Linked DNA regions of Homo sapiens: regions 1, 2, 3, 4, 5 and 7 are each linked to region 6. The links come from fine-mapping of genetic effects on gene expression. A gene starts in region 6. Each other region holds a variant in brackets. All regions are shown on one strand. Distances are from middle to middle.

What was found. PIP is the estimated chance that this variant, and not a neighbour inherited with it, causes the effect. A credible set is the group of variants that fine-mapping cannot tell apart.
Region 1: its variant is the best candidate, but not a certain one, in a credible set for the expression of FRY in whole blood (INTERVAL, PIP 0.60).
Region 2: its variant is the best candidate, but not a certain one, in a credible set for the expression of FRY in whole blood (INTERVAL, PIP 0.83).
Region 3: its variant is the best candidate, but not a certain one, in a credible set for the expression of FRY in whole blood (INTERVAL, PIP 0.52).
Region 4: its variant is the best candidate, but not a certain one, in a credible set for the expression of FRY in whole blood (TOPMed, PIP 0.82).
Region 5: its variant is the best candidate, but not a certain one, in a credible set for the expression of FRY in monocytes after Pam3CSK4 (Quach 2016, PIP 0.55).
Region 7: its variant is the best candidate, but not a certain one, in a credible set for the expression of FRY in sun-exposed skin (GTEx, PIP 0.86).

The regions. Positions count from the first base shown.
Region 1 is chr13:32,106,698-32,111,080 of GRCh38, reverse strand. The region is part of intron 3 of FRY (FRY microtubule binding protein); the gene reads right to left. Among named protein-coding and RNA genes, the nearest start is that of FRY, 77 kb to the right of the region's middle. The variant T/A (reference allele first, on the strand shown) is at 1,984.
Region 2 is chr13:32,202,336-32,206,718 of GRCh38, reverse strand. It overlaps FRY (FRY microtubule binding protein), which reads right to left. Exons shown (of 61, transcript NM_023037.3): 31 at 4,192-4,363. Among named protein-coding and RNA genes, the nearest start is that of ZAR1L, 110 kb to the left of the region's middle. RefSeq lists a silencer at 693-987. The variant C/T (reference allele first, on the strand shown) is at 2,254.
Region 3 is chr13:32,209,889-32,214,271 of GRCh38, reverse strand. It overlaps FRY (FRY microtubule binding protein), which reads right to left. Exons shown (of 61, transcript NM_023037.3): 34 at 3,238-3,406; 35 at 1,890-1,980. Among named protein-coding and RNA genes, the nearest start is that of ZAR1L, 100 kb to the left of the region's middle. RefSeq lists an enhancer at 2,933-4,132. The variant A/T (reference allele first, on the strand shown) is at 1,993.
Region 4 is chr13:32,115,841-32,120,223 of GRCh38, reverse strand. It overlaps FRY (FRY microtubule binding protein), which reads right to left. Exons shown (of 61, transcript NM_023037.3): 4 at 2,751-2,890. Among named protein-coding and RNA genes, the nearest start is that of FRY, 86 kb to the right of the region's middle. The variant T/G (reference allele first, on the strand shown) is at 2,184.
Region 5 is chr13:32,122,749-32,127,131 of GRCh38, reverse strand. It overlaps FRY (FRY microtubule binding protein), which reads right to left. Exons shown (of 61, transcript NM_023037.3): 5 at 2,756-2,846; 6 at 2,451-2,530; 7 at 2,257-2,337. Among named protein-coding and RNA genes, the nearest start is that of FRY, 93 kb to the right of the region's middle. The variant G/C (reference allele first, on the strand shown) is at 1,904.
Region 6 is chr13:32,029,212-32,033,594 of GRCh38, reverse strand. FRY (FRY microtubule binding protein) reads right to left here and starts at 1,821. Exons shown (of 61, transcript NM_023037.3): 1 at 1,730-1,821. The coding sequence starts at 1,799. FRY-AS1 (FRY antisense RNA 1) reads left to right here and starts at 1,956. Exons shown (of 4, transcript NR_103839.1): 1 at 1,956-2,144.
Region 7 is chr13:31,955,351-31,959,733 of GRCh38, reverse strand. It overlaps the pseudogene EEF1DP3. Among named protein-coding and RNA genes, the nearest start is that of FRY-AS1, 74 kb to the left of the region's middle. The variant C/T (reference allele first, on the strand shown) is at 2,247.

The sequences.
Region 1 (4,383 bases), 77 kb before region 6:
TGAAGTCTCCTGAGCAAATGACAGTATTCACCAGGTTCTCCTGGAAAGGATTTCTTCCCCAGAATCCTATGATGTTGCCCTGTCTTAATTAGCTTCCTGTACTTTCTCTTATCTTCTATGCTGTTCCTCATGAAATGCCAAAGCATAGTAGGACAATTCATCTGTGACAATAAGGATCTGAATTCTGATTGCTCTGACACATGCTCCTTTGCAGAGTAATCAGACTTTATTATGCAAAGAGAAAATAACTTCCACTTACTGTATGAGACTGTTTTAAAAGTTGAAATAATACTTCAAACAGAAAAACATTGTACAGCATACAATTTTTGGTATTATTTAACACATTGTATGTTTATATCATCATTAAATACTACATAAGCAAAGGTCTAAAAGCCAAGGGCAGAGCAAATCAACAAGCAAGCATTTGCATGTAGCTGGAAGGTATGTGAAAGAATATTCGTTTCTGACTTCATTCATCAGCTAGAATTTTCATTTCTGAGAGTAACTGTATCTAGTGGCTGTCATTAATACAATCTCCAACAGGTAAGGGTCACAAACTCCCTCAAGTAAGAGTTATTTTGGAGTGTTGCTTTTTCACTTTTAAAAATGGGCTAATTTGATCATCACCCACCCAGGCCCACGCTCATCACGGTTGGATGAGTAGTTCTTTGTTGTTGGCTATTGTTTCTTTGGAGAATCTGAAATAAAATGCTGTGGACTTTTATTGTAAAAAGATGTCTGTACAACGAAGAAAACCACTTGAAGGTAAAATGGTGAGCTCACATGCCTTTCATTCATAGATGCTCTCCACAGATGCCAGATAAGGAACTCATCACTGGTTCCATGATTATGTTCTAGCACGCTGCTTTGTTATTTAGGTGCTACCAATCATAATCAGCCACTATAACTTAGCTTGTGAAAGTAAGCTTCAAAGTATTTAACATTAGTCCATCGACTATGAAAATGCACTCTACACATCCATGAATAGCCATTGCAGCAAAAGCCTTCCTCAAAGCCACTTCCAGTGAGCTCCTAGCTGCTAACCTCCAGTTCTTCCTGGTCTGCATCTTCCGTGATGTCCCTGCATCAGCTGCTGTGATGGGCCATCCCTGCCCTAGAGAGCACTATCTCTAGACTTCTCCCACTTTCCAAACTACCCTTTTTCTAGCCATTCTTTTGTAGATCCCACCTCCTGATACTAAACTCTTTATGACGTTCTTTACTTATGTGCTCTAGTCTCTATCAGTGTTTGTTGAGTGACCACATAATAAACTGAACCCGTTATTTTTCTTGAGATATTTCACCTTCCCTGAAAACTCAGTATGCATAACGGATTTACAGCCTTCTCTTGTCTTCTGCCCCCAAGTATAGTTTCCTCTGCTTGAAGAGCTCATAGCCCATAGAAAATAATCTAGACCCCTCAGCACGGCTCCTACTACCCACTGCAATGGGCTCAGTCCACCTTTCTACCCTCATTCCCAGCACTCTGCTCTTTTCACCTTCAACTTCTCCTTTGTCTGTGAGACCCCTGCTGCCTGGCATACCCTGGCCCAATTTGTTCATCTGGATAAAAGGCTTATTTTAAATGTCACTGCTCCTTGGTTGCTTCTTGTAGCACACACTTGTGTACCTTCCTAGCATCATTAACTCCTCCTTTATCTGAGTTCCTAGAGCACTTGATACAACCTCTATTATAGCGTTTACATTGCCACTTTATTTGTGTAGATAACTGTCTTCCTTCTGGGATTGAGAATTCCTGGAGGACAGGGCTCTGTCTTATTCATTTTTGTGACTTCAGCACCTTGCACAGATCCTAGTATGTGTCAGGCACTCATTGTTTGTTTAATTGAATGGAAATCGCTCCAAATCATGCTTAAAACTACAGTTATCCTTTGTTTCTCCTTTTCTCAACCAATGTTTATCCTTTTTATATAATTTTGCTTATAATCGTCCTTTCTTATAGTCTCACTGCCTCCATTTTAG[T/A]TTAGGCCCCTTTAGCTTAGAATCTTTATCAATGCCATGTTCCCCAAATGCCTTAGGTCTCTTCATTACTGCCTTCATGACCATTGTCTCCTTAAGGCTAACATCAAGTTGACAACTTGATACTGGTATGCATACAGCCCCATCCCACTGGCATTAAGATCTTCCACAATCTGATCCCTTTCTACCTCTGCCGCCTGATCTCTTTTTTAACTTCTGCCAGACTGTAGGAAATGTTTGTTTACAATGGAAAACTAAAGCATACCTCTCAAGGGGTTATCTGATTCTGAGTCTATGGGGGCTCTATACCTGTCAATGCCTTTGAGCTATTTTAAAATTGTATAAATGGTAGATACCTGATAGCAATGCAAAATAATTCTTGTCTATAGACATGAAAAACTGTCCAGTGAAGGTTCAGTGGACTTCCCTCCCCCACATGAAAGAAGCCAGTTTTGCCTCTGATTGCATTCATTTCAATGATGATTTATAAATGTGTCTGTTTTTTGGAATTTAACTGGTTGTAACATCCTGCACTAATAACAAGTTAAATAAAATGTTTAATACAGGTTCATTTTATATCTCTATGTGAGTCATATTTTTGCCTGTTTTTGAAGATTATCCTTTAACAATACATGCCTTCTGCATCAACTAAATTGATCAATTTCTAGGTTCCTCAAAGATAACTGATAGTGTCATTTTTCTGTTCAGGACCTTTGCATAAAATGTTCCTTTCTTCTGAAATTTCCTATCTTCCTCATCATCAACACTCAGCAAATCCTATCGATTCTACTGCTTTAGGCACCTGATAAATCTTGTTCTCATCTAGAAGGCATTTTCTAGCTAGGCAACTGGTCCTGAGGCATGTGTCTTCTGTCCCTGAAGTCTCAGCATATTTACTGTCCACACCATTCATGTGGCACTTCTTACACATGCAGGCCTATGTCAAGGCTGGTTGTGCACTGCCTGACCCTCTTCCAGATCTGGAGCTCCTGGAATGTGAAACACATGCCTGGGGACCACATTCTTACATCTCTTTGTCTCATATAAAACTTTGTGTGTATGTATATACATATACACATGCACAGTAAGTGTTTGCTAAATTACTTTATTACCAGAACGATTTTTAGTTCCTTTTACTCGCTAAGCCCTGACAGTTACTATAGTAATTTAAAATAAATAGTGATAGTATATACATCTTCAAATGCTGTTGGAATTCTCTTCTGCCTTTATTGATTCTTGTTACTGGTATGACTTTATCACTAGCATGGACCAGAAGGGATAGCCCATACTGCTCTGAACCTCTGCTGCCTGCTCCATGAAGGCCTCCCTGGCTCCTCAGGGCAGGGCGAAGTTTGCTCTCCTGAGGCTCACACCCGCTTTAGCTTACTTACTAGTCTGCGGTTATCATTTATCTGATTGTAGTTCTATTTTTCTCTCCAACGAGACTCCAGTGGTGGGGCCTCTAGGGCAGGCACTATGCTTCCTTCCTGTTTGTTTCCATGAGTTGGCATAATGCTTGGCACATGGTTGCCAGGAGGTAGGTGCTGTATAACAATGGAAAAAAACTCATATTCCTGAAGTTTGTGAAAAGTGAAATTCTGGAAATGAGGGCACAAATTCCTAGTTCTCCAATGTGTAAAGCATTCACTAGTATATTTCTCCTACTAACACTGAGCTTTAAAAATCCTGTTTAGACATCTTGTCATTTATAAAATCTTTTTTCCAGGTTTCTTCTTTATTTTTATTTTTTATTTTTGAGACAGAGTCCCACTCTGGAGTGCAGTGGTGCAATCTCAGCTCACTGCAACCTCTGCCTCCCAGGTTCAAGCGATTCTCCTGCCTCAGCCTCCCAAGTAGCTGGGATTACAGGCACGTGCCACCACGTCTGGCTAATTTTTGTATTTTTAGTAGAGATGGGGTTTTGCCATGTTGGCCAGGCTGGTCTCCAACTCTTGAGCTCGGGTGATCCACCCGCCTCGGCCTCCCAAAGTGTTGGGATTATAGGCGTGAGCCATTACGCCAGGCCCTTCCAGGTTTATTCTTACAGAGTTGGAGTGTAATTAGGTTAAATTTAGAAATACTAAACCAATAAAATTATGAGTGTAAAAATATAAAATATAAAAGAAAACATGAAGTTTTAGCTTCTAAATATATATGTATATTTAAGTTCAAACTGGAAAACTGGCAAATTTGAGGAGAAACCCACAGTGGGAAAGAAAGAGGTACAGAACTGTAAATAGTTCTACTTTGGGCATTTTGGCTAAATATCTAGTGGATACATCTAGCTGTTACCCAATAACAGGTTTTCTTCTTTTTCTTTTCTTCTTCCTTAGGTATAAAATACCCCATTTTTAGACGGACACATAGTCACCCAAAGTAAAATTTCTCCACCTTTCTTATAGC
Region 2 (4,383 bases), 170 kb before region 6:
TCTTCAAGGAAATGTAGGTTGAACCTGCTTGCAACTCATAGGAGCCTCTGATCTGGTTAAACTTGCTGGACTGTTTCTCTCTTCTCTCCTGAACTGTGAACCACTCCCACTTTACTAGCATCTCCCTCTCAGCTAATAAACATGCTCCAATATCGCTCATCCTTAAAACTCCTCCTCTGACTCTGCACCCCACTGGAGGGCCAGCCTCTCTTTCTACATTCTTTCTCAGCCAGGCCACTGTGATCTGGCTTCTGCCACTACCTCCCTGCAGAAACTACTGACAGTTACCAATGAATCTCGAAACTCAAGAGAGTCATGTTCAGGTCTTCTCTTCTGGGATCTCTCTACTGCATCGGAGGCTGTGCACTGCTCACTCTCTCCTTCTAAATCTCTTTTTCCTTTATGTTTCCATGAAACCCTTCTCCTGAGTGTTCTCCCTCCATTCCTTCTCACCCTTCTGCTCTTCCTCGGACCAGTCTGCAAAAGTGGGGGTGTCCAGGCCCTTTCTTCCACTCTGTGCTCTCTCCATTCCTGATCTCATCCATGCCCGTGGCTCTAATCCCTTCCATCCTTCTGTGAGTTGCTAGCACTGACCTCCCTCAGTTCAGGCTCATCCATACAGGAGGAAGTCCAGCAGAGGCATACACTCAACATCCTGGGCTGGGCTCCTGATCTCTGCCTTGCACCAAACCTTCCCCTCTCCCTGTATTGGGTTTCTAGGAGGGTTATCATCACTGACCTCCCTGATATCACAGTAGGCATTCTCTTCTGTGCCTCTGCTTGGCAGCTTTTCGCTCTGGTTTCTCCCCTCCAGTCTCATTGGGCTGTCTTTGTTCAGGCCCTTATCATTTATTATTTCCTCCTTGGACTATTGCCATTGTTTCTTAACTATCCTCCTCTCTCCAGACTGGATGTTCACTAATCCACCCTCCACACTGCAACCAGGCTTTTAAAAATGCATTCTAATCTTGATACTCCCTCTTCTCGTTTGCAACTCATCAGTGGCTTTCAAAACCCCAGCAGCTTGCTTGGATGCTCTCTCTGTTTACAGAGCTCTGAAGGGGGATTCAAAAAGCACATATGGAAGATTGCTGGCCTACAAACCTTGTAGTGTACACAAGGCCTTCCAAGATAATGATTTTGGCCTCTGCATCTGCCCACGACCATCTCTAGCTTTTCCTGTTCCTGCACGTTATGTTACCTAAACTGACCTCTATATAATCCCCCAATTACATCATGCTAGTTTATAACTCTAAGCTGATGCATATGCAATGGTCTCTTGCTCTGTAATGTCTATCAACTACTTGTCTGCTATGCAAATTTCTACTCCTTTCAAACTACAGCTTAGACATCAACTTCTCTCTGGGAATTCTTTTCTGATATTCCTGGCCCAATAATTGATTAGTCCTTCAGCTACTGTCTAATACATTGAGCATTTTTCTTTTTTAAAAAATTGCATTTGCTATACTGTATCAAAATCATTTGATCGCACACCTTTTTTTTTTTTTTTTTTTTTGAGACAGAGTCTCGCTCTGTCGCTCAGGCTGGAGTGCAGTAGCACAATCTCGGCTAACTGCAACCTCTGCTTCTTGGGTTCAAGTAATTTTTGTGCCTCAGCCTCCTGAGTAGCTGGGACTACAGGCATGTGCCACCATGCCCAGCTAATTTTTGTATTTTTAGTAGAGACAGGGTTTCGCCATGTTGGCCAGGCTGGTCTCGAACTCCTGGCCTCAAGTGGTCCACCTGCCTCAGCCTCCCAGGGTGCTGGGATACAGGCATAAGCCACTGTGCTTGGCTTGATTGCATATCTATCTTTTCTGCTAGACTATGAACGTTTGATGGGAGAGACTTTTATTTCCCTCTGTATTTCTGAAACCCAAGCACAGTGCCTAGCATGTAGGCAGCAAACAAATCTTGGGTGAAGTGCATAAAAATAAATTTTAGTTTTGCAAGAAGAGAATTAATTTACTAAAAAGGCTTTTATTGGGTCTCTCCACTGTTTCTGGTATTACACAAAGAAGTGACTAACTCTGCCTCAGGTATATGGAGAGGTCTGCACAGTTGAGGTGGATGTTAAGTTAGATCTTCTGGAAAGTTGAAGTTAGGAAGAAGGGGTGAGGGCCATTCAACAGCATGTACAGAAGCAAAGATTTACAAGAGGACCTGGAATGTTGGTCAAAGATTCAGTAGGACTGGAGTAGAGGATTCTTGAATGAAAAGGTAGAAAGCAAGTTTAGAAAAGGAGCTTTTTTT[C/T]CCCTGCCCCTTGGCTGAGTTCTAATTTTATAGCAATGGCTTTGGAGGAAGACAGATCTAGATTTAATTCTGACTTGGTTGCTTCCTAGCTATATGGTCTCGAGCAAATTATTTAACATCTCTAAACCTTAGTTTCTCATCTCATCTGTAAAACAATGATGATGGTGGTGGTGGTAGTTGTGATAATTCCATGCCAGGACTGGGCCAGCTGCTTGGTTTTCATTAGATCACTTTAATCTTCACATCCTATGGGGTAGTCATTACTATTACAGATAAGGAATGTAATTTAGAGGTTCTGTGACTTGCCCACAGTCAAACAACTAGTGAAAGGTTGCCTGACTCCAAAGCCTCTGTTCTAACCACTGTACTATACCAGGGTTTATAAATATTAAGTGATAAATGCAATGCACATAAAGTACCTAGCATGGAGGCTGGTACCTACTATCCACTCACTAAATGTAGGCTGTTATCAGCTATTTTTAGGACAACTGGGCAGAGAAGTTTGAGTTAAGAAGTGCTGGACATATTTGGCTTTGCATAGTGGATGGACTGCCACATGGAAGATAAACTGTAGTTAGGTAATGCAGAGGCAGGGAAGGACTGAGGAAGATCTGGACAAAGCAGTGGTGAGGTGGTGATAGAGATGGAAAAACAGGATGAATTCAAGAGGCCAAAGTCTGTCTCTTGGCAAAGTGCTACGTAAGCTTAGGCAAGAAGTTAGGTGACAAATGCATTTTTTTTTTGAGACAGAGTCTCACTCTGTTGCCTAGGCTGGAGTGGAATGGCATGATCTCGGCTCACTGCAATCGCTGCCTCCCGGGTTCAAGTGATTCTCCTACCTCAGCCTCCTGAGTAGCTGGGACTAGAGGCGTGGGCCACCATGCCCAGCTAATTTTTGTCTTTTTTGTAGAGATGGGGTTTCACCATGTTAGCCAGGCTGGTCTCAAACTCCTGACCTCAGGTGATTAGCCCTCCTCGGTCTCCAGTGTTGGGATTACGGGTGTGAGCCACCACGCCCGGCCTGACAAATGCAATTCTTTAGCAATTCTGCATTACCTAACTGCAGTTTATCCTCCATGTGGCAGTCCATCCACTATGCAAAGCCAAATTCACAAAAACTATTTATGAAGATTGTAAAGAATATGCAAAAATTCAAACTTTCAACAACTTACATATGTAGCAAAATACAAGCTACAAAACACCACCACTATCACAACCACCAAACAACTTGCAGCAATTATATGTGTTATAAATTACACTGTTCATATTTAGCTTTTGTGGGATATTAGTTTCTTTGGGAAATTTATATATATAATGTATGCAGAAGTTAGTATTATTAATCTAAGCACCTTGCATTTGTCATATGTATGTTTATGCCTACACTGCTTTAGATAAAGAAATTTTTTTCATTTAACAATTATAGAATTTACTTTCATATGTAACTGGATCTAGCCCACAGTAATTCTGACCTACAAACTTAGCATCACTAATTATCACTCTAAGATTTTTTTTTTTTTTTGAGACTGTCTCACTCTGTTGCCCAGGTTGGGGTACGGTGGCGCAATCTCGGCTCACTGCAAACTCTGCCTCCTGGGTTCAAGCGATTCTCCTGCCTAGCCTCCTAAGTAGCTGGGATTACAGGCACACACCACCAGACCTGGCTAATTTTTGTATTTTTAGTAGTGACAGGGTTTCACCATGTTGGCCAGGCTGGTCTCAAACTCCTGATTCAAGTGATCTGCCTGCCTTGGCCTCCCAAAGTGCTGGGATTACAGGAATGCGTGGCATCGTGCCTGGTCATAACTCTAAAATTAAACTAGAATTTAAAAAGAAAAATTACTTAGAGCAAAGAAATGATCACATGTCATTATTAGAAATGATCACATACGTCATTATTAGAAATGATCACATATGTCATTATTGACTATTGCCTGGTACCTGAGAAGAGGGGGAGTGTGAGCTCAGGGTACATCCTGGCCAGCTCACATGACAAGAGGGCAAGTGACACGCTGTAGAGGGGTGGCAGCGGGCCGTGTGTTCCATAGAGAATACTTCCCGGTCTTTGCTCAGCGACTTTCTTTGAGTATACAAAAAGCTTTGCTTCAAGGATCTATAAAGATGTAGGAAAGT
Region 3 (4,383 bases), 180 kb before region 6:
TGTAAGCACCCATATATCAACATGACAGGGATTACAAGGAAGGAAGGGTGATAAGTAGACTGAGGAGAAAAAAGGATTTTAGGCTGAGGGCACAGCCTACTTTCATAGAAAAAAAAGAATACAGTAGACAAATAGTGTAGGTGCTATATGGGATCAACGGAATAGTGGTGTCCATTGGGAGAGCATATTCATAGACATATGTTTGCACATATATGTGAATATGATCAATCAATGTTATAGGTAGATAAATATCAGTATAAAAGAATCTGACATGTATGAATATGTGTGATATATATGGGTAGATAATTGCATCAGGCTTTCCAATGACCAGCAGAGATATGGTGACAGAGCAGGAGTAAGAGCTAAACAAGAAAATCTCTCTTGAAGATGTTCTGTGATCTTGATATTAGAGAGATTACTGGCTTCTTAAGTTCAAAGGCACCACTAAAACCTCTAGGCAGGACACTCAGAACTCTGGCCCTAAACAGGCCTTTGTAATGAGATGGTAATACATGGAGATCTATCATCTTTCTACCTCAAATAAAATTCAGACAGGAAACTCAGACAAAACAATAAATGATCAAGAATGTTATAGTCTAGTGAGAAAGTAAAAATATCTTTAGAGAAATACTGTGACTTTTATCATGAGGTAGTTTTCCAAAGAAGGTAATATTAATAGCAAATATAGATTTTAAAAAGTAACATGCTAATTAATAATCTTGTACCTTCACTAATATGTGGAATATAAAAACCTTTATTCATTCCTGAGAAAGAAATAAAAGGCTTTATTAGAGAACTTCAAAGGACAAGGTCTATAATTCGTGATCTGCTGGGTTTGGGCTTTTAGTCTGAAGGGAAGCCCGTATGGATGAGCATCTGCCTGAAGGTAACACAGCTGCCCAGTGATGCAGTGAGGAATCTGGCTGGTGCCTGAATTAGGGAAGGAGCCTTCAGAGCCCCAAGGGCAGGCAGCCCTGTGCCAGGTCATCTCCACGCCAGCCCCTACTGTGCCCCAATACACATGATGAAATCCTCAGGATGCTCAGGAAGCACTGTGGGCTTACTGGGGCATTTTGGGCTAAGTGAGTTATTTTCACCACTGGATCCCCTAAATTACCTTTAATATGAATTCATGAGCATCTCATCCTTTTTACTAATTTCTTAAGTAAAAGGGCTCCCTCATTACCTTTCACTATAAAATGCTCAGCTGAAGCACCGTGAGGATCATCCTAATTTTCATTTTTTTTAAATTGAGTTTTGTTTTTCTCTCCTGGTTTGTCTCCCTGCTCTTCACAATCAACTGCAGGAAAGAGTGACTCTGATTTGACTACTGATGAGTAGTTCATAGGCAAGGCAATAAGAAGGCTGAGATATAGGGGAAATATTATTATTAAAGAGCTAATGTGGAGGGAACGGAGACTTTTTTAGCAGGAAAAGATAGTGTTTTGGTTAACCAAGACAGCACAAAGCAAAAGTAAAATAATAATAATCATGTTTCATAGAACTCATCTCAAGATGACTACTCTATCCCTAAGAAATTATTCAACTATCAGATTCGAAAATTTCACATGGCAATTCTAATTCCAGATGGTCTGTGTCCATTAGCAGAACAACTCATGGTTTTTACTAAGCCCTGAGGTATGCGAAATTCCACCACCACCAGAACAACACCCTTCTTAATCTTTCTCTTCTCTGACTTTGCACAGAAATAACTGTTATCTTTAGGGATATACTGAGTAGAGTTGGAAAGTAAGTCTGAGTTTCTAAAAACAAAGAAGGATTTTTATGTACGTGTAAAATTTATGAAACTCCACAAACCTGTATTGATGTCTATGTATAGATTATTGCAGAACATTACACTGGATATTAAGTCAAATTTGTGTACCAACCTTTCATCAGATTCTTTCAATATCTTGTTCTCCTCAGCATCTGGGAAATTTTCCTGGCCAGCAACCACTGTATTGCTGCTAGAGGTGGTTCCTGTAGATGGGA[A/T]TGGAAGAAAAACACTTATAAAAAGATGCAAGCTGAGGGGTCAAGCTCAAGTCTCAAGTAATTCCAGGGAAAGATTTCCTGTAAATTCTTATGTTTGGAAGATTTTTTACATCTTCTGCACAATCTCAGACATTCTAAACAATCTTCCAAGCCCACACCACTGAAATGAGAGAATCGTAGACATCTGTTATGGTCAAACCAAATTCCTTAACTCTCGTAAAGCAAGCCTACATTCTTGAAACCTCTTCTTCCTGGCCACTTAGGCAATGAGCTTATTTATAGTGGCTGGCCCTGCTGTTGGCTGCTTTAGTATTTCTGGGTCCAGGAGTTACTAAACTAATGCTAGTGAAGTAAGGCCAAGCACCTAGCACTTCTGATTGCTGTGCTACTGCTTCCCTGTAAGAACACTGCTCTGGTGGCAGGGTGTAGGGCGAACAGAGGAGACAGTAGACTCAGGGAGGAGAGGAATTGGAAGGCAGTTACTGCATGAGGTCAGCAGAAGGGAGGCAGACTTCAAGGAATTTGAGGAGGATGGCATATATTTCATGAAAGGTTGCTGAGACACCAATTAACCAAAAGTGATAATACTTTTGGGGGGAATTTTAATCAACGCTGAAGGAATATAGCCAAGGGAGGGTCCAGATACAAGAAGGGGGATCCAGAAATGAGATTCCTGAGTGACTGCAATGTCCTGGCTGGGATCGGCTGAAATACAAAGTTCTGTGATGGAGGATGCTTGAGCCACAGATTCTCAGTCATCTTTACAAGATCATTTCATTAACCCTATGATCCCTAAGAAACTCAGTTATTCTCTTTTTTTTGAGATACAGTCTTGCTCTGTCGCCCAAGCTGGAGTATAGTGGTGCAATCTTGGCTCACTGCCACCTCTGCCTCGTGGGTTCAAGTGATTCTCCTCCTGCAGCCTCCTGAGGAGCTGGGAGTACTGGCGCGTGCCACCACATCCGGCTAAGTTTTTGTATTTTTAGTAGAGACGGGGTTTTGTCACGTTGGCCAGGCTGGTCTTGAACTCCTGACTTCAGCCTCAGCCTCCCAAAGTGCTGGGATTACAGGCGTGAGTCACCACGCCCAGCCCATGTCTCAGTTATTCTTAAGCCATCTCTTAACTGAATGCACACACAGGAATAAGAAAAAAGTAACAAACACATTCTCATATCCTTTCAGGAATCTACATGAAGGAAACCCCAGGGATCTGTGACCAGGTGTCTGCCCGGTTGCTCTTCTTACCTGAGGCTGCTGCGGAAGCCTTGCTACTGGCCGTGAAGCGGTAGAAGGGCGGGTTGTCACAATGCTGGACGATGGGGTTCACGGGCTCTGTCTGCTGCAGCTCAAAGAGAAGCTCTTCCATGGTTTGAATGGTGTTGTTACGGCACAAGTATATTGCCACTTTTTTAATCTGAGAAGGAAAAAAGAAAACAAGGGATGTTTCACAGAGCCTAGTCCACAGGAACACTAGGCCAGTAAACCTCTCATTTAGATAAGTTGTCATCATGCAGGAGCTGTCACCGTGATAGCTAATCTTTGTGCTATCCTAGGATGGACCAAGGACTTGGATTAAAATTCACCTCTCTTCATCGGCACGTCTGATAACAGTGTGTTCTTAAAGCCCTTACCTTTTCTAATGGCTAAGTTTTTAAAAGTTACTTTTGAGGTACGTGAATTCTATCTAAACTGAAAACTTGCCATCAAAGTTCTCATCTTCAGAAATAATTTTATTTATACAAACCCTGGGGAAAAACTGCTAGTTATTTTTGTTTAAAAAGGAATCCAGTCCCCTGCTATTCTCTTCTCCCCAAGAAACAAATGAGTTTTAGCTGTTTTTATGGTTTTAAATTTTAAAAATAACTCTGGATTAAAGCTCCACATTATTGCAGGCCTCATAGTCCAACCTGAGCCCTGCAAGCTGCAGTGAGGCTTATGTGGACTCAAGGCAGCAGGAAGACATAAACCTGTCACAAAAACAACCAGCACAGAAATGCCAATTGAGTTTGGGTTTTAAAAATGCTGTCATTCTGTTGATCCTATCACTTTTAAATACCAACTGTAAATATCAGACATTTCAGAAGGATTTCTCCATGCTTACTTCTCTCTTCTACCACTTGAATTTGAAGAGAAAAACCTGCATACTCTGCTTTCTTATTCTGTTTCAAGAGCATCAAGATGTAAACATGAAACATTCTTATTAGTAATAATACAACACTTTACTTAGTGTCTCTTACATAGTAGGTCCAATGTTTATAGAAGGCAGCTTTCAGTAACTGCTAGAAAAATATCCACCTGCTATATCAATAGGTTTCTGCGTCCCAAGGCTCAGAGTAAGGAGATGACAGAGGCATCACTAGCACACATAGCCTGTGTCTAGGGGGCAGAAGG
Region 4 (4,383 bases), 87 kb before region 6:
GAATAATAGTACTTACATAATAGTTTGAGAAGATAAAACATGTAAAGTATTTAGCATAATTTCCCAAACACATAAATGCTCAATAGTATATATTAAATAAAACCAATGAGGAGGGATGACAGGATTTAGACTTGCCAGGAAGATCTTTTCAAAATAAATCAAGACTATTTTAAATCTGGAATGTTTTTCTCTTTAGTCAAAAGGGAATAAGAAGAAAATAATGTGATATTTAAGATATAAAGAAGACCTTCTGGAGTGCTCTGTAACTTTGAGCAAGTCAAATTAAGGCTGGTGGATGACAGAACGCGTTAAGAAGGAACTTGCATGTTTATCTTTCAAGGAGTAAATGTATCAACAGAGTAGGAACTCATTCTTTCAGGATCATTTATGAACAGCCCTGCCAGGAGAAAGAGCTGTGAACAAAACCATCTATCTAAAGTCCTTCAAGACCCACTGGAACTAGTAAGCGGCACTGCGAGCTGGGGGAAAGGAAAATCTATGCAGCTGCATTAAAAAGGAGGGCACTCAGAAATCAGGCTTTATATCCATTATATTATAGAATAAGGAGACAGGAAGTTGGAAAGACCAAAAGGAAGGAGAACTCCCAGAGATGGCCAGCAGCAGTAGAGAGAGTATTTTTGTGCTGGATGCTAAGGGTCTTTACAAGTGGCCAGAGGAACCTGAGAAAGTAGCAGTTCTTGGCAGAAAAAAAAATGTAGACCTTTGATTCTATTTTATTTAATAAGCCAAATTATGTTTTCAAATCAAAGTAAGACATATACATTTCTAATAATGAATTCAACTTTATTGCTGGTTTGCAGTCTAACTGCCAGGAGCCAGAGACATTTGACAGATTTATTTGGCAGTCCAAATGCTGATACTGTACTAATCTCAGAAATCACAACCCAATGTGCATCCCTGACATCTATTTTCAGTAGTTTATGCTCCTCCTTAAAGTCCCCCCAACCTTTTTTTCCTAGTAGCAGAAACTCACATTTAGCTACACCATACCCTAGAGAGCTTCATTCATTTGGCTGTTTTCTAAGCACATTTTCTCTCTTATTTTAAAAATTCAAGCATTAACTAAAATGCTACTAAGTCAAATTTTACTGTCCTGATTCTTTATCTGATCTCAGTACTTACTCTGATCTCCTGAAAATAATCAGTAACACAATTTTAAAAACTATAATTTTTAATCCATAAAGAAATCAATTCATGAAAAATCTAATTTCAGCAACTAAATTCTGACAAAACAGAGGAACAAAACTAAAACTCAATTCAACTCACTAAAAACTGTCCCACTCCCTGCCCCTGGGAAGGTTTAATATCTGTTCATAAGACAACATGTAATATGGAAAAAATAATAAAATGATCCTTTTAATTTCTTAATCACATGGTCTGAACCATTTTTCAGATAAACAATTTAAATTCTATTTTTAAAACCTGATAAATTAAAAAAATATTCATGAGGAGAGGCTGCTAATGGGTACAGGATTTGGGGGTGATAAAAATGTTCTGAAATTAGAGTGGTAATGGTTGTACAACCCTGTAAATATACTAAAAACATTGAATTATATACTTTAAAAGGGTGAATTTTATGGCATCTGAGTTATATCTAAAAATTCTAAAAATTTCCTTCTTCACTAAAAAAAATTCAATACGAAAAAGTTATTAATCTCTCTCCCAAACAAAATTATATGATTAAATCTTGCATAAATTCAAGCACATTATAAAAGCAGATTACAAATTTTGTTGAAGTGTAACATGGTAATGTTACAATTCTTCTATTTCAAAAGAAGTCTTTTGAAACAGTATTAGGACTTTCAAGAAAAATGAGAGAAATAAATCATTCACAAAAAGTAGTTAATGTCTGATTTTCTGGTTGATTAATTTCAGTTTACAGACTTTAAAAGTATTTTTTTAATTGGAATAATCCATTCATGTGGAGAAATCTAACTACTTTTTAAAATAATCTTTTATTTTTTTTAAAAAAGGTAAGTGTATTAATCTTTCTTATATTCACTGCCTTGCTATAGGTTGACTAAACATATGAAATTATATGTGCTTACCTAAAATTTGGGGAGGACACACATTAATGAGAATCTTAAGTTTTACAGATGCTGATATGCTCCTGGAGCAGCAAGTTCCATTTTTCAAACCCACAGGAAGAAGGGAACAGAGAA[T/G]AAATAAACAAAATACTCAGCTGGAAGGAGGAGTTGGAGATGGTGTCACCTAACTTCCTTGTTTTGCTCACAAGGAGGCTGAGGTACAGAGAGGCGGGGAGCTGCCCAAAGTCACATGGCTAAATAGTGGCAGCGCCAGGACTACCACTAACGTCCAGTCCAGCGTCCTTCCCACTACAGTACACTGAGCACTCAAGGTTACTGGAACGAGGACTAAAATATCTTGGCATGTCACGCAAGGCCTGAAGTCAGCATTCTGCTTTGGGTGTAGACTCAGTGGGAGAGGGCAGAGGAAAGAAGCTGGCAAGAAAGTGACCTGTGGCCCTTCACACCTGTCTCCACCAAAGTTGAAATAAAGCTGTGTATGAATTTTCAACCCGTGACGGCTGGCAGTGACTCGGTGCTCCAAATGGGTTACCTGCTACAGACACAGGGCCCCTGCAGCACCTGCTAGGCATCCTTGTGAAGAGTCAGGAAGACCCAATTGCCTTGTAACTCTAATTTTGATTTATGTTTCCTGAAAACAAAACAAAATAAAACCATGATCCTTACACAAAAGAAATGTACCTTTTTGATTTATTGCTTGTTCTTGGTCTGTATTCATGTGATTCATCCTCAATGCCATTTTGCCTTTTATACCAGTCAAATAATGTACGTAGAATGGAAGGCAGGCAGTACTCAGAAAGGGAGCTCATTGAGCTGATGACCTATGGAGGAAAATGCAGGTGATTAGAACACTGGTAGCACTGCCAATTACTGAGAAACTTTTTATTTCACAAGTAACCCCAAGCACTACTCACTAAAATATTTTCTTCCGTATCACAGTCCTTTCTTTCATAATCTTTATTAGTACATTCCCAAGAGCCTGTCTCTTAATGGTGACAAATGTTCCCCATATAAGAATAATTTTGTAGTTCAAGAAAGTTAATTACTTTGACTCCCTTTCATTCTAGAAATCAGATGTTAATTGCATACAGGTTATTCATGGAACTGCAAAGATATTATGTTCCCACGTTCATCTGCCTAAAGTAGATGAATGCTTCTTCCGTCCTAAAAATGTTTGTTGTATAAATATATGAATACAGTTACATTAATAATTTACATGATATAAACAAATCTGCCCCCATCACCAAATAACCTAAGTGGTAATAATAATGTATGGTTTTGGACAATAATTATTCATTCATTAATTTGAAGTATGCCCCAAATTAGACTCAAAATATAAATGGGCAGCAATAATTTACCCCCTGTTACATTAAAGGCAAACTTCTCCCTTTTTCTTTAAAGAACAAATGTGCCTTTGGTAGAATTGTTATTCTAATTTCCTTATCTGGAAAGAGTCCTGATTTTTTAACTGATTACTATAAAAAAACACTTCAATCCATATCTCATTACTCTATGCAAAAGTTTCCACAAAATGCCTCATAAATTTAAGTATAAAACCTAAAAATATAAAACTCCAAGAAAACATAGGATAAAACCTTTGTGACTTTGTATTAGGCAAGGATTTCTTAGGTACGGCCCCATAAGCAAAGTCTATGATAAAATTTCATATAATGAAACTCTTCAAAACCAAAAACTTCTGCTTTTAGAAGAATTCAGTTAAGATCGTGATAAGGGACAAACCACAGAGTGGGAGAAAATATTTGCGAAACACATGTCTGACTAAGGCCTTGTCTCCAGAATATGTAAAACTACAATGAAATGGGTTTTAACTAGCTAATCAACAAACTGTATAAGCAAATTATAACGCCCAGAGTTGATGAGCAGTGATAAAGTGGATATATTCATATACCGCTGATAGAAAAAAACAGGCATAACATCTCTGGAAATACATATCAAGAACCTAATAAAAATCATTCCCAAGAAGGCCACTCTTAGAATTTATCTCAAGTCCATAATTAAAGATAAGTAAGAAGGTGCAGGACAGCATTATTTATTATAGCAAAAGGATGGAAACAACATAAATGTCCAACTACATGTAAATGCTTAATAAGATGTGGAATTTGGTGTGGACTATTTTTGAAACCATTAAAATCATATTTTAATATAAATATAAAAATATGACATGAAAATGTTCATGATATGGTAAATGAAAAAAATGAAGAATCATTTAATTGGTATGATTCCAATTTGTTAGAGATACTATGTAAGTATACATATGCAGAAAACAGGACCAGAAGGAAACATACTAACATAT
Region 5 (4,383 bases), 94 kb before region 6:
ATTTTGGCCAAAGTAGTTAAATTTGTTTTAACTGACTTTCAAAAAGTCAATATTATGGGTGAATAACACTTATTATCAAAATTCTTTTCCCTAAATGACAAGAACTAAACAGCATCATCACTAGTAAGACTAAAAATAGTGATTCTGCTAAAACTCAAATTCCAAAGTAAGTACTAATAGCTAAAGTCATAATCAGGAAAATATTTAATAAGCATTATCATTGGGAATGAGACATATAATCTAAAATTAGAATTATTACATTACTCAACTTTTTTAAAAAAGATAATCACACTATACCAGATAAGCAAACATTCTTTCTCCCACCCTGGGAATGAAGGAAACAGTACTTTTCTAAGGTAACAATAAAGTAATGGTCCTGGTGTACTTATGAGAAAGAAGTAATGTCATAATTCATGGTATGATACTAGTTTAAGTTTATACCATCTATCCATCAAGGTTAACTACATATAGACTAGTTGAGAACACATCAAGGGCTATTGGAGTCTGTGTTTACTGCAAGAGCAGACTGGCCAAACGGTTCACTAGAGACTGGAAAGTACTGGAGCACTGTCCAAATGGAGGCATTTCTTACACCCTACTACCGCAGAATAGGGACAAATACTGACATCACGAAAATAAAAAAAGCCACCATTGGCAAGCAAACACTGACTTGGTGGACCATAAATCTTACCTAAAATGGAAATTCCTACAAGCTTAGAATATTGCTCAGTTATGACAGTGTTTCTCAACTTATTCACAACCAACTCAGAATCACAGAGCTAAGGAAGGTCATTTGACAGTAACCAATATTATTGTTATGCATAATTCACAAAAACTAAGGAAAACACAAAGTCATTTTTGGATACTGAAGTTTCCAAATGACAGCTGAAAGTTTATGTTGAGATTTTCAGGGTTTGACAAATCAGCAAGTATACATGTTAATACCTCATTTTTCCCAATCTTTTCTAGAAATGAGGTAGATACACGATTTGCTGGATAACTACAGCTTGTCCATTTAAAATGCTAATGCTTTCATTACTCAATTGCAATGGAAATATCTCCAAAATGCATTACACTTTTTTCTTAATGATTCATGAACCACAATTATTTTAATAGGCTATAAAACTACAATATAGCCTCATGCAAAATGGCCCAGATCACTCTATTGTTTAATTCTTATGTATGCTTTGGCCAGTTTCTTTCCTTTCTGTTGCCACCAGCGGTTGAGCTTTATTTCTCAATGGCATCAGTTTATCATCCTCTGGAAGTTCCCGTTCCTCCTTCGAACACTGATGTGTTATATATTAAAAAAAATATAGTCAGGATGAGTAGATAAACTGGATTAGATTAAATAAATTATGCCAAGGAGTTAAGGGGTTCTATTTCCTGCATTCTGGTCTATGTTTTGGCCAGGTAAGATTGCTAAGTGCTTTTTAAAATTTTTGTTTTTTTGATAAATTGTGTAATTTCCATGCTACTACGTTACGAAATTCAATCCCTTGAAGATAAAAATCTCTTTCTGAGGAAGGATTGCATTTCACAAGGATTGGAGCATCACTGTTGCTTTAAGCTGACCTCCTGGCATGAATTCACATTATGTCTCTGGTTCATTTTGCCTAACTTAGGCATTCGGGATCTTGCCTGATTTGCCTCAGGGTTGGACAAAATGAAGCTGGGTAAGTAGGGTGTGACATCACTTTTGGAAGAGGTATATTGTTGCTAATAGTCTAACGCAATTTTGTTCTTGCCTGCTAAGTAGTGCTATGGGGCCAGATAAATTTAGCAATGAGAATTTCCCCCCTGACTTGTTTCCATGACAGAGTCTGGGACATTTTTAGCTCAGCTGAATTAAGTAAGGTCTATAGTAAAGGGGACATTCTAGAATGGAATTTTCCCACTGATA[G/C]ATGATATATTGTAACCACCCACTCATGGGCTAGAGAAAACAGAACTTTCAAAAGTGATAAACTTCCTTGGAATATTTAGGCAGAGAGAAATGTAATCTGGTCACCCCATTTCTTTGATGCAACAGTATGAAACCCATGGACTCTAGGTAGGATCTGGCCCAAGTGCCAAGTAAAAAAGATAATTGATACCTGTCTTGGAAGAGCTTTCTATTCAGTTTCAGAGATGGGGCACACATGGCAAAGAGCCCTACCTAGTTCCTTGTAAGCTCAACCCCAACTTCCCTAAATTAGGGCTGGAAGGACAGTGAAAGCACGCACGTTCTCATGGTAAAGGGTTCTGGCATTCACTTACTTGGCTTGTGCCAACACTCCAATGACTTCTGCATACAGGTCTGCCACAATATGCATATTGCCAGTGTTGGGACCAAGGTACCTAAGTAGGGTATAATTAGACAAGTTAGGGATCCCTGGTCATCGGAAAAAAGCAAACCACTGATTTAGTTTTAAACACCAACTTCAACATTCTAAGGTGAGAAATCATCTTACCCTTCTTTGTATTTAAAGTGCTTGAAAGCCAAGTTAATAACATCATGTATTAAACTGTCTATTACAGGATGAAGTGGAATCTGAAAAAAAAAGGTGGTTCTTAACTCAGAAGGGAATATTAAAGAACAAATCGGTACAGTACTTCCAATAACTATATATGACAATCAATAGCAATCAATAAACATAAGTCATATAACCCAGTATTTGGAATTCAGAAATAATTTTAAAAACTTAGACTTTTACAACCTAAGTAGTTTTTAGATCAATAAATATTATCTAAAAGTAACAATAAATTAATCACCTACCTGTTTCAAAACTTCTATTAATACTAAAGAAAAAATAAAATCAATGGCGAGGTCCCGTCTTTCCATTAAATAATCTCGCTGTTGTTCATCGCTGTAAAATTTAAAATATTTACATTAAAGCACACTGAAGGTATTCTCAGAGTAATACAATTCATAAAAAATCTAGGACTCCTCCCTAATAGACTGCAAAACCCATTTTTAAAATTATATAATTGCACTGGTAGATACATGCTAACGTTGGCCGGGCGGAGTGGCTCATGCCTGTAATCCCAGCACTTTGGGAGGCCGAGGCGGGCAGATTACCTGAGGTCAGGAGTTTGAGAACAGCTTGGCCCACATGGTGAAACCCCGTCCCTGCTAAAAATACAAAAATTAGCCAGGTGGCATGGTAGCCCATGCCTGTAATCCCAGCTACTTGAGAGGCTGAAGCAGGAGAATCGTCTGAACCCGGGAGGCGGACGGAGGTTGCAGTAAGCTGAGATCATGCCACTGCACTCCAGCCTGGGAGGCAGAGCGAGACTCCATCTCAAAACAACAACAACAACAACAACAACAAAACATGCTAATTCTCTGTGTGCTGCAGTGGACAAACATTGGATTTGAAGTCGGAATATTTGACTTCAAATTTAAAATTTTCAATGATGTTAACTTGAGTAGTTATTTGTGCGTCTATCACCTCACCTTGTGGTCTTTTCTAAGGTAGCTTTCAACTCTGCAATTCTACCACCTGTAAAATGTGATAACAACTTGAGACAGGCTACCATACCAGAGGTGGACATTGAAAGATCTCGTGAAAGGAGCTAAACAATGTAAGGAAACAAGAAGGAAATAATATGATCACCAATTTGAGCAGGACTGCAGGGGTGAAGAGGATCGGCATTACCACTTTTCTTTTCTTTCCCTGTCCCTTTTCTCTTACATTTTTTGCCACTTGAGACTTAGTGAAAGGAGGAATGAAGAAGTGAAGGGGTGGTGAGAGAGAAGAGTAAAAGGCAGAAGGAAGAAGAGGTAGGAGAAGCAAAGCAGTCATTTGTGCTCATTTAAAAGTTAGAAGCACGTGGTTGTGGTGACTATGGCCTTATAGTATAATTTGAAATCAGGTAGTGTGATGCCTCCAGATTTGTTCTTTTTGCTTAGTCATGCTTTGGCTATGTGGGCTCTTTTTTGGTTCCATATGAATTTTAGAATTGCTTTTCCTAATTCTGTGAAGAATGACGGTGGTATTTTGATGGGGATTGCATTGAATTAGTAGATTGCTTTTGGCAGTGTGGTCATTTTCACAATATTGATTCTACCTATCCTTGAGCATGGGATATGTTTCCATTTGTTTGTGTTGTCTGTGATTTCTTTCAGCAGTGTTTTGTAGTTTTCCTTGTAGAGGTCTTTCGACTCCTTGGTTAGGTATATTCCTAAGTATTTTATTTTATTTTTTGCAGCTATTGTAAAAGGGGTTGAGTTATTGATTTGATTCTCCGCTTAGTCGTTGTTAGTATATAGAAGAGCTACTGATTTGTGTACATTAATCTTGTATCTGGAAACTTTGCTGAATTCTTTTATCAGTCCTAGGAGCTTTCTGGAGGAGTCCTTAGGGTTTTCAAGGGAAATGATCATATTGTCAGCAAACAGTG
Region 6 (4,383 bases):
ACAGTCATTTTGAATCATTTCCTGAAGTATGTATGTGGGGAGAGGAGTTTAGGAAGGGTGGAGAGAATATATACTTTATCTAGAGTGATTTGAAAATAGACAAGGGGAGAGAAATTTTTAAAAGAAATCCCATTGGCCTCAGTATTGTCACAACATAATTTTCTATTTAATGATGCAATGACAAAAATTGATGGAAGAAAACAGTCTGGTCTTGGAATAATCAAATATGTTTAAAAACCACGTACTGATGTCAACTCAAAAGTGAGTTTTTTCAGTTATTGGAAAACTGCTCCATAAAGAACACTGTATGTCAAATTCTTTTCATTAATCAAAGAGCAGATAGACAAAGGAAGATTCATCCTTGAGTGTAAAGTATTATAAAAATAATGAGTCCAAGTTAAATGATTTATAGCTATGACAAGTAAAGAATGCTGTTTGGGCAACAGTATTACTCCCAAATGGCTTCCCACTTGTAGAAAAACAGCTTCAGACAAGCCCCATAGTGTATACAGTGGTGCAAAATGACCTGGAAAAAATGGTTTCTATGGATATCATTTAGAGATGCACATCCCTGAATACCTTAAGGCTGAAGGTACTTTAGCTCTTTTCCTCAAAGCAATTGCAGCACAGGTTCTCCTGCCCAGGTTTTGTTTATATAAGAACAATCTTGGCCACAGGTCATTTGTGTAGGAGACAATTAATCACTAGCTCTTTGAGCACAGGTAGGTTAATCAGTATGCACATAATACAATATTAAAATTTTCACGGGGAAAAAATTTTTTTATTTAAAACAATAAAGCATCAGTAATACCTGCTGATCTTTTATCCAAAGCAAGTACAAAGGCTGTTAGTGAAATAGAGAAGACTTTCTTTTTAAACAGTTCGGAAAATACAAGGCATCATTGATCACCTGAAGGCCTCATTTTAATTTGATTCCAGATCCACGGCAGCTTAGAGGTTGTCTTTTTGAAATAGCGTATTGCTAAAATCCTTATGTAGGTCAGAAATGGAACTTCAGGAGCCATCATATTCTGCTATCCTAATAAATAATTAGGGTCAGAACCTCACTTGTTTATGTTTCAAAAAAGCACAATATTTGGACTATAGCAAACATCAGGATTTTTAAAAATTCAAATATTAAATGGCATTCAGAACATCATCCACATGGAAGAGGGAGAGATGAAATAAATCTGCAGATGCCTCTATATACAAAAAGGATGTCCTAGGTTTTGGACTATTAAATACTTTTCTTTCTTCAGACAATACCCTAAAAAAACAATTACAAAGTACTCTGAAACCCTGCCACACCCCTTTGATTAAATCACACTTCACAAAATATTTAGAGAAAGCCTGAACAAATCAAATAAACATCAAGGCAGGAAATGCAGCCAGGAATGCCTGATCCTGAGCTCCCCCAGAGTCTGAAGGGCTGCCTCACTTGAAAATTTAATCAAACACAATCTACTGTAATTCCATTGCAGCCTTTGCACTTAAGGAAAGCTAGTTCAGTCTCTGACATTTTGATTTTCACAGCAGATGGGAGCAAAAAAAGAAAGAAAGAAAGAAAGAAAAAGAAAGAAAGAAAGAAAGAAAGAGAAAAGAAAAGAAAAGAAAAAAAGAAAAACTTCCGCGGCTCACAAACATATGTGTCCAGTTGAGATTTTCTGTCTCCAGCCTTATGCAACATCCAGCAAACAAACAAACAAAAAGGTTATTTTCTATTACTCACTATTACTCCAGGATTTCAGTAAATATTTGATACTGATCTCAAAGAAGCCCGAATCCTGCTGGCTGGCCATGTCTGCGGCATACAAAGAGGCTGGGAGGACGGGCAGCGGCCGGGAGCAGGTACCGGGCGTGATGCGCCTGTCACAGGTTGTGATGTCAGCGCGGGGTCAGGCGCCCAGAGGCAGCTCTGCGGATCCACCTCCGGCTCCGGCCGGGAGTGCTCATCTAAAGGACACGGCGGAGCAGAGAGAGATGCTCGGCCGCTCCTCCTCCTCCGGGTCCAGGACTTGCTTCTTATTTGCTGGACGCTGATCTCCCTGCAGCCCTCGGAGGCGGCGGCCGCGCTGCTTTCATTTCGGGGCTGTCATCACCAGAAACGCCGGCTGCCGGCCGCCCACCAGCTCGGCTCCAGCCAGGTACGCAACCGAGGAAGACCCCACCTGAACTGGGATCGGCTTTCTTCTGGGAGGGAGGGTTTCTAGGCCGGCCTCCCTGACGCGGTGCAGGCAGCCTCCGGCCCACACGGCCGCCGCGGGGCTAAGGGATGGGCCGGGAGCGCCGCCCCCTGCCCCTGCCCACTGTCTCAACCTGAGCCGCGGCTCAGTCTCCGCCTAGGCTGCGGGAGGAATTTCCCAGCTTCTGCGGATCCTCTCTCTTCAGCAAGGCTTCCCGTGAGCGGCCCGGGTGTGCTCTGGCTGCTGCTTCCCCTTGTGTCTGTCCCTGAAATAAACACAACTGCAGCACGCTGCGGTAAGCAAAGCTGCAGCCTTGCATCTGGTTGCAGCGACGTTTTGAAAAACCCCATCCGTCAGCCTCGTTGCAGTAAAGAGACTCAACAAGAGGACGCTTGTCTGGGCTTTTTCTTCCCTGCCTTCCACACGCATGGTGGTATCTGCATTTTTACTTTTCCCTCCCAGAAATGCAGTCTTTTCAAGGGGCATCGGAGCCCGAACGTGTGCACTCTAAGGGGACAGTACACACTGCTTAGTTGGCTTGTTTTTGTAATGTCACACACTCCACAATGGATCTTATTCTCAAACCTCTCATTTCTAAGACTCACTAAGCCCAGTGAAGCTTATTTTATTTGTATGAAAAGGATAAGAAGCAAAAGCATTAGATTCCTTGCTCTACAATGGCTCTTGATTTCATGAATTCTTGATATCAGGTGTCCTGATTTTGGTTAGCTTTGTTTCACATTATCATTTAGCTTGACCAGGGGATTAAATAAGAGTATTATATTTTAATAATGACAGGTTATGTTGGAAGAGGTGGGATTTGGCCAACTATCTCATAAACCACAGGATCCTTCCCAAGTCCCAGTACATTCATGATTAATGTTGTCTAAAAAACAGAAAAAAGTAATAAACCATGTTAATAAGTATTTAACATAGCAAATGTTGGGCTAACTCCCCAAATCAACACACAAACAGGACTTCCTAGATTAACAGTTCATTTTAAAAATGGAAGGGAAAGACTACAATGTACTTTTATTGTTAGGACAAAGAATTTTTAAAATTCAACACTAAATAAAACTTCTAGAACTATGTTCTGAAAGGCCCTAAGATACTTCATCAATACAATTAGTTTTTCAAACTCATTACACTTACCCAAATGGCAAGCACTCAATCACTCAGATTTCCAACTCCACTTATACACTTTATTCTGATGAAATCTCTCACCAGATTGACTTCTTTTTAATTCATGTGCATACTAGAGTTGCTGAACTGATTTTATCACTTGTACTTTGAATGTATGGATTCTAGGTAAAATAAGACCCAAAGGTTTTACCTTGAAACAATTATTATATCTGAAAATAAATTTCATACCTACGCCCATCTGATGCTTGCCAAGACTCAGATGGCAGTGAATGAACAGGTAGGCTGCACAGTGCCCTGCGATTAACGATGGCATGGGCTCTCAAGGCAGGGCCCCATGTTCGCTCCTGGCACCAGCCCTTACTAGCTTTGAGCCCCAAAGTAAGCTATTAACTTTGCTAAGCCTTCGTTTCCTCATCTGTAAAATGGGGTTGTACCTTCTTCCTATAGTTGTTGGAAACAATAAATAACACTATGTATGAAAGGGGCTCAGCATAGTATCTTGCCCATAGTTAACACTTCATTAAATTTTAGCTACATTGATTTTTTTTTTTTTTTTTTTTTTGAGACAATCTCACTCTGTCGCCTGGGCTGGAATGCAGTGGTGCAATCTTGGCTCACTGCAACCTCTGCCTCCCGGGTTCAAGCGATTCTCCTGCCTCAGCCTTCTGAGTAGCTGGGGTGACAGGCATGCGCCACCATGCCCGGCTAATTTTTGTATTTTTAGTAGAAATAGGGTTTCACAGTGTTGGCTGGGGTGATCTTGAACTCCTGACCTCAGGTGATCCACCTGCCTTGGTCTCCCAAAGTACAGACATGAGCCACTGCGCCTGGCCCATTCATTCTTATTATGAATCCTTAGTGACTCTAGAATAGAACTTTTTTTTAAAAAGCTAAATACTTTTTTTTCTTTACTCTTTATGTGGTTTAAAAGATATATTACTTTTGAACACCAGTGGTAACTATTTGGGGAGAGCAAGTTGGAGACATTTAAAATCAGTTGCAATAAGCAAACATGCTATTGTATATTGTTACTCAAATATATAGAGATTCTCTCTGT
Region 7 (4,383 bases), 74 kb after region 6:
TCTGTGATGATCTCATGAAGGATGATGCTATAGAACATTACGGGAATCAGAAGACCCTCCATGTCAACTGTCTTTGTAGGTCTACAGTTTTTCATCTGTAAAATGAGTGCACTGAATTTGATGTTCTCTATTTCTTTCAGATCCACAATTCATTGATTCTTTGATTCTCCACTGTGCTCACTGCCAAGTGAGTTATTTTCTTGTCTAAGTTCTTCAACAGCATAACCACCATGCACTTTTTGAAGCTTGATCTATAAACAAAAAATAGTAAATCCCCAAGAATCAATCTTGGCACATCTTATGTAAGATTAATAATTAGGAGGGAAAATAAGAAGGAAACTTTTGAGGAAATGCCATAGGCTTTCCAAGATGCCCTATCATTGATTAAAACAACAACAACAACAAACTGAAATAGCTCATTGATGTCCAGGCTTGGTAAGATCCAAGCTTGAAGAATCTATGTGACTTAAAAAAAAAACATGTAATTCTATAATTCTGATAATTAAAATATTTTAAAAGTGGAGTATACATCTCATCTAATCATATTCCTTAAAAGCTGACTACAGAAATGTTGCCACTGGGATGAAATTCATGGCATTTCAAATGTTATAACTTTTATATAAAGTCCTAAACGATACCATAGTTCTATTATGCAGCATTTAAATAGATGTTATGTGCCACTCCATTCAGCAATGAGTAACATGCAGCAATGTGGCACACTGAGGTTAGAATTGCAGAGTACAAGAGATTAGGGGTTCATAAACATTCCAGTTCGGGGTTGGGGCAAAATTCTAGTCAGCTGGTTAATGTGCATTTTGTGTACAACTTTTATGTATTTATCTATTTCATAGCATTTGTGAATCCCAAACTTCCACATTTAAAAGAAACAAAATCATAAATTGCTGCTTTGCTATAGCTCCTGAAAGAATGTAGTGAATTTTTGAGCAAATTTTTACCTACTTCTACACACCGTATTTTCACACATAATGAAAGTAACTCACAATGCTGGACTTCTATCTGAACATCAAAATGGCATATATTGGCATAATGTCTACCTCTGCTGCCCAACTACAACAGAGCTAGATCCTAACTTAATTTTAGAGCAATAACAGGTAGACTGCCCTAGGGAGGCCTTTCAAGGAGAAGTGCAACAGAAGGAGTAGCCAGCAACTCTTAAAAGCCTCAATCTCTCTCTCCCTGTCTCGTTCTCCACTTCTACCCCAGCCAACATCCCTATAAAACCTCCAAAGGCAGCAGTTGGTTAGAGATAAAAGAGTCTGTTGTTGTTTTGTGGGGAGAATGAAACAGAAACCTTCGATTCTTACTATCTCATTTCATTCAATCTTCTGTTAATTCATCATTATTTTCAATGTTTGGGAACTTTCAAAGAACATTTTATTTTATTTTACTTTATTCATTTATTTTTTGAAATGAAGTCTTGCTCTGTCACCCAGGCTGGAGTGCAGTGGCACAGTCTTGGCTCACTGCAACCTCTGCCTCGCGAGTTCAAGCAATTCTCCTGCCTCTGCCTCTCAAGTGGCTGGGGATTACAGGTGCCTGCCTCCATGCCCAGCTAATTTTTGTATTTTTAGTAGGGACAAGGTTTTGCCATGTTTGCCAGGCTGGTCTTGAACTCCTGACCTCAGGTGATCAGCCTACCTTGGCCTCCCAAAGTGCTGGGATTACATGTGTGAGCCACCGTGCCCATCCCAAAGAACCTTTTAAAGAAGGAACCCTTACTCATCAAATCGGCAGTGACTCACTCATACTTCCCTTCCTTTTAACCATCTAGGTGACATTTAAGGAACATCCTCATTTCCCACAGGCAAGCACCAAACCCAGTTTCTTATCTGCAGTTTATCAGTTATCTAGCCCTGTGTGTATCAATCAACTTTTCAAAATAAAAACTACTTTACACTTTACCTGCTGGAAGATATGTCTGTGGATATAGGTGCCACATTACTTTATTTCTGCTGTTTTTTTCTCCTCCTTCCTCTTCTTCCTTCTTTTCTTTTCTTTCTCTTTCTTTTCTTTCTCCTTCCTTCCTTCTCTCTCTCTCCCTTCCCCTTCCCCTTCCCCCTTCCCCCCTCTTCTCCTCCTCCTCCTCCTCCTTCTTCTTCTTCTTCTCTCTCTCTCTCTGCTAAGCATGTTATTTCTGGCATGGAGTTTTCTTTCTCTCCTTCCACCACCCCTATTTGTGCAGATTTTGAGTTTTCATTCTCAGTAGCCTCTTGAAGGAAATCATT[C/T]TTGCCCATTTCCCTTCCTCCCACACACCTGTTTGTGCATGTGGGAATGCCTGGTGTGGAAATCAGGAAGTGATATATTGCCAATAAAATGGCTTCTATCATTACTATAAATATTAACTTAAGCATAGTTAAACATACAGTTTTCAGTCACCTACTTTTTGTTGAAGAACTGAACAGCTTGAGTATATTTGAAACAGCAAATTTCTTTCTAATTTAGCAGAAAATAAGAAAAAATACAAGGCCATAACTTTGCAATGTTTATAGTTTTCCAAAACTGCCTTGCCTTTTGTTTAAATAACTATATAGTGATTCATGGCATCCTTATTATAAATAATCACATTTCGAGAATATTTCTTTTGAGAAGTTTCCAGATTGCTATTTGTTTCATATGGATGTGATTCAGTAACAAAAGAAAATATGTAGCTATAGTTTACCCTAATTCTGAGTAATGAAGTTTCTGTGCAGCACTCAGTATCACCGATGATATTCATTAACTCTTCTTCATTAAACATTTCTATATTTTATAATATCATCTGTATTGTTGAGAGCTTTTATTTTTAAAAACCTTGAAATGTTTCTCATTCATCCAACTTACTCTAATCAGCTGCCTCTAACAGGCACTGTTACCATTTTAAAAAATTCATTGTTGCATGTTCTCACTCACCTGTGGGAGCCCCCCCAAAATTTGAGCTAATGAAAGCAGAAAGTAGGATTGGGGGTATCAGAGGTTGGGAAGGGCAAGGGGGAGGGAAGGATGGGGACAGGTTGGTCTACAGATATAAAATTACAGCTAGATAGGAGAAATGAGTTCTGGTGTTCTGTAGCACTGTAGGGTGAATGTGGTTAATTATAACTTATTGTACATTCTCATAAAGCCAAAGCTGGGTGTGGTGGCTCAGGCCTGTAATCCCAGCACTTTGGGAGGCCAAGGCGGGTGGATCACCTGAGGTCAGGAGTTCGAGACCAGCCTGACCAATATGGTGAAACCCCATCTCTACCAAAAATACAAAAATTACCTGGGTGTGGTGGCGTGCACCTGTAATCCCAGCTACTTGGGAGGCAGAGGCAGGAGAATCACTTGAACCCAGAAGGCGGAGGTTGCAGTAAGCCCAGATCGCGTCATTGCACTCCAGCCTGAGTGATAAGAATGAAACTCCATCTCAAAAAAAAAAAAAAAAAAAAAAGCTAGAAGAGAGAATTCTAAATGTTTGCAACACAGAGAAATGATAAATGTTTGAGGTGATGGATATGCTAACTACCCTGATTTGATCAGTACTCATTGTATATATGTATGGAAATATTACTCTCTATCCCATAAATATGTACAATTATTATATGTCAACTAAAAATAAAAGGAAAAAAAAAAGATGGTTGAGAGGCACAGAGCGAGTCCTAATATTTTACCCTATGGTGTGAGCAGGATTTAGAACAAAGACCGTAATATGGGTGTGTTTGGACCTCTGCACTCTGCAGTTCTGGTTTTTACAGTTATGAGTGGGGACACAGAGGCACTTTGCATATGATGAAACTCAAATTACAGGTTCCTCTCTTGCCAGAGAATACACTAAACTTCGAGGGTGGTAGTGGTTGGGTGGGTACGTGGAAGGGGACTGGATTGCAAGGGGAAGCAACAGAGGTCTGCCAGGCATAGCTGCCTCCTGCTTCTTACACGTGAAACTTAGAATAGTTTACAAATAAACTTTGATCTTTGAAGATCTTTTCCACTTTCTTTAAGTCAGTAGTTCTTGACCAGGGGATGGGACAACATCAGATGAACCTGGGAAAATGTTCACACTGCAGTTAGATGCCTGGCCCAGTGTAGACTTGGTAAATCACATCTCTTGGCCAGTGCCTGTGGATTTTGGAAAACCTCCTCCAGAAATTCAGATTTGCACAATCGTTTGAAAACAACAGCCCTAAATTGGTAAGTTAATATTCCTTTTGTTATGCAGGGGCTCCAATGTACTCTCAAAAAACCAGAAACTGTTCCTGAGTTGGGACTTGAGGAGGGATATTTGACTTATGACCGTTTGCCACTTAGCTGTTTTTTAGAGTGTGGAGAACAGACATAAATTACAAAAAGCATACAAACCCCCAACTAAGAAACCCTGATGTGGAGGACACCTAAGGCCCCTGG